2 linked regions of the Homo sapiens genome follow. The protein of the gene in region 1 purifies or fractionates together with the protein of each later gene. This does not show direct contact. Each region holds a gene or a part of one and is shown on either strand. Other genes may lie near its edges.

What was found.
Region 2: the proteins of XPC (region 1) and CETN3 purify together in Homo sapiens (affinity purification with mass spectrometry; 5 studies listed by BioGRID and IntAct, with this or other methods). This does not show direct contact.

What each region holds. Positions count from the first base shown.
Region 1 is NC_000003.12:14,144,522-14,147,632, forward strand, and holds the end of XPC (DNA repair protein complementing XP-C cells), read right to left. Parts: exon of another isoform or gene 3,052-3,111; intron 2,859-3,051; coding exon 2,769-2,858; intron 1,639-2,768; coding exon 1,420-1,638; 3' UTR 626-1,419; downstream 1-625. UniProt on the Homo sapiens protein: Involved in global genome nucleotide excision repair (GG-NER) by acting as damage sensing and DNA-binding factor component of the XPC complex. Has only a low DNA repair activity by itself which is stimulated by RAD23B and RAD23A.
Region 2 is NC_000005.10:90,403,105-90,406,860, reverse strand, and holds part of CETN3 (centrin-3), read left to right. Parts: intron 1-1,061; coding exon 1,062-1,176; intron 1,177-3,756. UniProt on the Homo sapiens protein: Plays a fundamental role in microtubule-organizing center structure and function. As a component of the TREX-2 complex, involved in the export of mRNAs to the cytoplasm through the nuclear pores.

The DNA of each region.
Region 1 (3,111 bases):
ACCACTGCACCCCAGCCTGGGCAAGAGTGGAACCCTCCCTGTCTCAAAAAATAATTTAAAAAAAAAAATAACAGAAAACAAGTTGCCTCTATAGGAGGGCCGAGCTCTGGTGAGGAAGTGTGAGACCAGTTTCCATAGCAACCCCAGTCTGTTTCTCAACAAGAGGTTCCAGCCAGCCTCTTGCCACATATGAGTCATAACTCAAGTGTTTTGTTTGTTTCCCTTGGATAAAAGTGACTCCGATTTTTAATGGCTCCTCTCAAAGATTAACATCTCTTCACTAAATACAGAAGAATTCCATATGTAATGAATTTCCAGCCTCCATGAAAACAAAATGGACTCTTTCATGCTGTCTCAACATATGAATACATTGCTCTGTCACCTGGGTGTTATTACCGACTTAAATCTGAAAGAAGCTGGGCACGGCAGTGGTGTGTGGGTGCCTGCAGTCCTGAGGAGCTGGGACTGTTTCCCGAACAATGCCTTTCCACCACACACGGTGGTTGTGAGGGCCAGCTGAGGCAAAGCCCTCAGGAAGACCACTCAAGCCCAGGAGTCCAGCCTGCGCAAGACAGTAAGACCCCTTAAAAAAAAAAAAATCTGAAAGAAAATATAGAGCCAAATCTTTAGATAAATGCTTTATTATTTTCTCAAAATGTTATAAAAGTCATTTCTCCTTAGTACAGAGAGCTTTATACATTTTATCTAGTAATGAATACAATCTAGTTTAACACTCATCTATTTTACTAACATTTCCTTAATTTTCAATTCGTATTTTTCCTTTTCTTTCCTGATTTTAGCTTTTTTTAGGCTTCTGTCACCACAAAATGTTACTTGGAAAACTAGATCCCAGCAGATGACCTGTACTTCTCTGCTCTCTCCCCTACTGCAAAGAGGCAGTGAGGGCAGCATTAGTAAGCCTGACTCAGGGGAAGGTAAGTGGCCTGCAGAGAAATGGTCCTAGGTCCGCAACCGAGGCGAGTGAACTTGTCGGACAGATGAAGACTCTAACTGGAAGAAACGATCAGCGCATTCACGGATGCACCACCATCCAGAAATCTCCCGGTGGCTTCCATACAAAAACTGATGTTTCTAAAGATGGAAAGAACAGGTCTAGGAGGCAGAAGAGTATCTCCTAGCAAAGTGTTCTGTAGCTCAAAGGGTGAGTGGGCTTTGGTAGCAAAAAGCTTTGAAGGCTTCACCCTGGGTGAATCTGACAAGGGCTGGAGCCAGACGGGACCTGCAGCACCTCCTCAGCTTGGCCTCGTCTCCCCTGACCCCGCCTCCGTGCATGCTGCCTCAGTTTGCCTTCTCAGCAGAGAAGCCCCCACCACCAGGGGCTGGGCATGCCCAGGGCAGGTGTGGGGCCTGTAGTGGGGCAGCAGCAACTGGTGGGTGCCCCTCTAGTGGGCGCTCAGCTCACAGCTGCTCAAATGGGAACAGGTGGGAAGCTGCTGCTTTCTTTTCCCTTTTGGTCTTCTTGGGCCCACCCTTCAGCTTCTGCTTTTCTTCATCTTCTCGGTTTTGAGGCCAGGAGGCAGCCAGTATCCTGGCCGCTTCTGCTTGAGAGCTGGTCCCCTCCTCTTCATCAGAAGAGAGTCCACCTCCTGCATCTGTGTGGGGAGCTGCTGCCTCACTCTGGACAGGTGGCAGTGGTGGGAGGACACAGGCGAGGGTTAGTAATCAGATACCAGGAAGCCCCATGAAGAGGCAGCAAGTTCCCAGCCTGCCCTAAGCTGTGTAACTCTGGGAGGACAAGGGCATGGGACAGGGCAGGGAGAGAGCCCAGACCCTTCTTACTGAGCCGTCCCAGCCTGGGGTGCATCCAAGCAGACACTGGAGCACCTGCTACGAGCTGAGTGCAGGGGAACACAAGGATGATGGCTGGGCAGGAAGCTGCCCTCTAGGAGCACACTGCCTCATCTGGGGATGCCTGTGATTCGTGCCTTGCATTTGCTACCTCATTTCTGGACCAAAGCACATGATGTCTTGAACGGGCAAGATGCACAGTTCAGCCCTCGGAGCCCTAAGATCTGAGGCGGCACTCCCTGCCAGCTGGGATGGCTAGGGAGGGTTTGGATGGAGAAGGCGGCAAGGAGCTGGTCAGAACATAAAGTCAGATGAAGGGCTTTTCTCCACCAGAGGGACTGGAATGAGGAGCGTGACAAAAAAATGTTGAAAGGCAAACAGGCAGCACAGAGGGTTGGAGAGAGGGAACAAAACATGCCAGAGCAGTTTCTGCTGTGTCTGACACAGCACTGACTATACCATGTAACTGGGCCTAGGGTCCATCTGCCCCAGGGAGGGGCCCCCTTGAGGGCTGCATGTCAAATTCACACCTGTGTCCAAGCCTGGCCTGGCACATGGCAGGTGCTGTGAGAGAGGTACTGAGCGGGCCACTGCAGGCCTGCAGCATGGTCACAGGCACTGGGAACACTGGAAGGCGGAAGGGTGCACCAAATGCAGGACACTTGGCCCTCCCTATGTGTTCAGCGCCAAATCAGACCCATGGCATTGCTCATGTGGACAGTAGAAACGGGGACACTGGGACAGGGCTTGGGGCAGAAGAGCCAGCTGAGGCCTCACTCCAGGGACACCTTTCCCAACAAGGTAAAAACAAGCGGCCTTAGAGACAGAAGACTGAGGTGTCCTAACACAAAGCTATCCCTGACTTGAGGCTGGGGCAGAATCTGGGCCAGGCCTTTCTGAGCTGCATCTCCAAGAAACTGACCCTGAGCTTGTCTTCTCTGCAAAGAACCTGCACTGACCTTGGGCCCGTAGCGACGCTTCAGCCTCTCCCTGATGAGCAGACCTTTGGCCAGCAACTTCCAGTTCCCTAGAGCCCGCTTCTCCTTTTTCTGCAGGCAAAAATGAAGTGGGAGAAAAGTGTTAAGCACTGACATTTTCAGGAAAAATATTAAGATGGAAACTGTGAATGTAAAGACAGATATATACACCACTTTAGAATATAGCCTCTCCTTCACACCAAGTCTCACTTCCAAAAAATTGATCTGATTTACAAAGTGATATACTATACCTGAAAGCCACAAAAACAGATAACTTTTTAATCGTTACTGACTCCAAAATCTTTAGTGGGTGAGGTCTTCCAGA
Region 2 (3,756 bases), on another chromosome or scaffold:
TTTTGTTTTTTTTTTTTTTTGGTTACCCAGATTTGATCTTCCTTTATAATGTCTGTTCCATTTGTAACCATTGACTATCTTGGTTTGGGACCTTATTTCATACCTGGAGCTTCCTAAATGATTTCTTACTAGTTCACCTTGTACACTACCACTGAATTTAGATAGTTTAAAAATTCTTTCACCATTGCTCATAAATTGTTCATTGCTCATAAACCATAACTCCTCATTGTATACTACTTAAAGTTCAGATTCCTTTGCTTTCTACTGAATGTTCTCTACACTTTTGCCACCAACTACTTTTTTCATTTGCTAACTGCTTTCTTCCTCCTGAACTCTTCTAATTAAGGTGGAATTCACCTCCTAATTCAGGTGAGCAGTTTACCTCACCTGAACTTTTCTAATTCAGGTGAGGTAAACTGCTCTGTTCATTGTCCTTCGAACCTATTCGTTTCAGTGTTTCTTTTAATACCAGTCATCCTTCCCAAATACCCTACTGCTCCTCTTCATCTATCCTTCAAGGAACAGTTTGAATCTTTCCAAATAAGACTTCTCTAGTCAGTAATATGTCTCCTTCCTTATTATTAGTAACAAAATCTCTTTTTTCTCTAAACTCAGGGTCCTTAGCCCTATCATTTACCTGGTAACTAATCATGGAAAGACTGATGATAATTCTTGTTTTAATGTTTTATCTCTTCTATCATGTAACTGTTTAATATTTATGCCACGCCTTTTTCTCATTTTGATTGTTAATCCCTTCAGAACAAATAACAATCAAATTATCTGTGCAATAAGTTAGTGCATTTTATATAGTAAAATCTGTAAACACTTGTTGGTTACTTTGTCATATAAAAAATGCAATTTATAAATGAAAAAACTTATGCATACTTAATTTCAGTAGTGAAGAACAATTACACTATCACTGCTATTTTAAAGAGGTAAAACATGCAAAAAAGTTATATTTTATTAATGTGTTGTCATCTCTTAAGATGTAAAAACTTAATAATTAGAAATTCTTTTGTAAAGAGTGCTTTATAATTTGCTTTTCCTTTTTAATCCAAAAGGTGGCAATGAGAGCCTTGGGGTTTGATGTAAAAAAAGCTGATGTACTGAAGATTCTTAAAGATTATGACAGAGAAGCCACAGGGAAAATCACCTTTGAAGATTTTAATGAAGTTGGTGTGTATTTTAATAGTCTTTGTAATCAGCAGCTGTTAGGAAATTGTCTGATTAATATCACTTTTTAAATTTTAAATTCTCTAGGTTATGGAATTTTCTTATAGAACACTGGTGTATAATGTGACTCTTACTCAGTTTTGTTTTGTTGGTTTTTTTTTCAAAGAAAAAATATGGCTTTGCTCTGAGATTTATAGTTTTGTCTTTTGTTTTGTTGTGAAGATTCTAACCAAGGAACTATTGTGTAGCTTTTTATAGAAAGATGCTTTTCCAAGTTGTTTGTATTTATATTATGTGATAAAACTTGAAGGGTGATCAAAAAATTATTTTTGCTTAATAAAACAGAAAATTTGATATCCTGCTGTTTGGAAAATGTTTCCCAAGACCTTTCTGGTATGTGATTTTTGTTGGCTAAGTGGGAGAAGAGGGAACTGGTAGTAGTTGGTATCTTTGGCTGTAGATGAAATGCACGACTTCAGGTTGACAAAGTTTATGAGAGGCTACATCCTCTGGATGACCTTGATCTCAGTGGATAAAGTCATCTGTTTAGAGGGTAGTAGTAAAGGAGGCAGTGGGCATACTGGAAGCAGGAGAAAACATCCTAGTACCACCAACTGAAGATAATGTGTCATAGGCTTAATATGGCTAAATTTTTTTATAGTTGATTTTAGTGAATTATTTATAGCATATATAGACCAGGCTTTTTCAAAATAGAAGAGTCCGGAAGGCAAGGATGTTGCTATTATAACTTAAATGTATTGTCTAGAATATTATCTACAAAATATGTAAATATTCAGGTTTATTTCTTTTTTTTTTTTTCTCTAAACCAATGGGTCACGATATAAGCACATCATATAAGTATTTTAAGATATTTTAAAAATTTGGAAACAAATTCTGCTATATACACAAACCCCTTATTTTAAATATTAATCAAGAAGCAATAGGGGAAGCAAAAAGAAATGGCAATTAGTAGACGCAGAGAAAATTTAGATTCATGTCATTAGTCAGTTTTTTAAATCCAAAAGCTCAAGTCATAAGCAGTTGAGATGGAAAATAAATGATGAACCTAAGAGAAAAAAAACACAGCACAGAAGATCCTCAACTTATGAACTAATATATGACTGTTTAGAGAGGCAACTTGTCCATTGGGGACATTTTCCTTTTTTCCTCTAATTTGTAGAATTAATTATTTGAGGAAAGGGAGAGAGCCACCTTTTGTTCTCCCAGAATGGACACTCTCCTGAAGTTTATGATCGTAGTATTCCTAGTTTTACCTTAGATTGTTTATTTGTAGAAACAAGGTGTTTGTATATAGTGGAAATGGTACTATTAGGAAGGAGCTATAATCCAGGTATGTTTAGTACAGTATAGTGGTTTAGCACTTGGAACCAGATTCCCTTGGTTCATACCTTGGTTTTGCCACTTTACAGCTCTGGAACTTGGTCTTTTTAATACCCCATGCCTCATTTTCAACTATAAAGTGGGGATCATTGTATTCTCTCATGAGATTCTTCTAAGGATTAAGTTAATGATATGTGAAGTACCTAGAAAAGGGCCTAGCATGTTGTAAGTGCTACTAAGCATTTGCTATTATTATTACTTTAAAAAATTGTCTTTGTTTCAGGGGCTCGAAATAATCATATATGCATCACTGGGACATAAAATAGACTTTGTGTATATTTTTTATTGACTTTTTTCATAAAGGCTATTGTAAGCACTGTATCATCACTAATAATTTTACAAAATATGTTATTTCACCTTAAATGAACACAATTTAAAAATTGTGATTTTTTTTTTTTTTTTTTTTTTTTTCTTTTGAGACAGAGTCTCGCTCTGTCGCCCAGGCTGGAGTGCAGTGGCGGGATCTCGGCTCACTGCAAGCTCCGCCTCCCGGGTTCACGCCATTCTCCTGCCTCAGCCTCCCAAGTAGCTGGGACTACAGGCGCCCGCCACTACGCCCGGCTAATTTTTTGTATTTTTAGTAGAGACGGGGTTTCACCGTTTTAGCCGGGATGGTCTCGATCTCCTGACCTCGTGATCCGCCCGCCTCGGCCTCCCAAAGTGCTGGGATTACAGGCGTGAGCCACCGCGCCCGGCCAAAAATTGTGATTTTTATTGGCAGTTGGGACCAGAATCCCATGCCACCTCCACTTTTTCCTGACACCCCATCTGTTCTATGTTATTAACAGAGCAGAAATACTGGGTTCCTTCTAGAATAAATAGATGTGGCTAAACTTCAGCTTTGACACTAAAAGATTAACCTTTTGACAGGGTCAACATGTATCTTAGCTATCTTAAGGCTACCTATGGAGAGTACCAGGTGTCAAATAAAAATGTATTACTGTTTGGGAATCATTCAGGAACTATGTATTACCCCTTTTGTTGATTATTTTTAACTAATCACTGACCACAGATTAATATGTTTTATACTTTGGGACAGATGATTCTAAATCATAACATTTGAGTCCTAGTTTTATGAACTACCCAAGGACACTGTTCCACAGATATATCTGGATGAAGTTTGGCAGTTAACTATTATAGACTCTTCCTAGTACTGGAAAAAAGCTTTAAAATATATTTAAT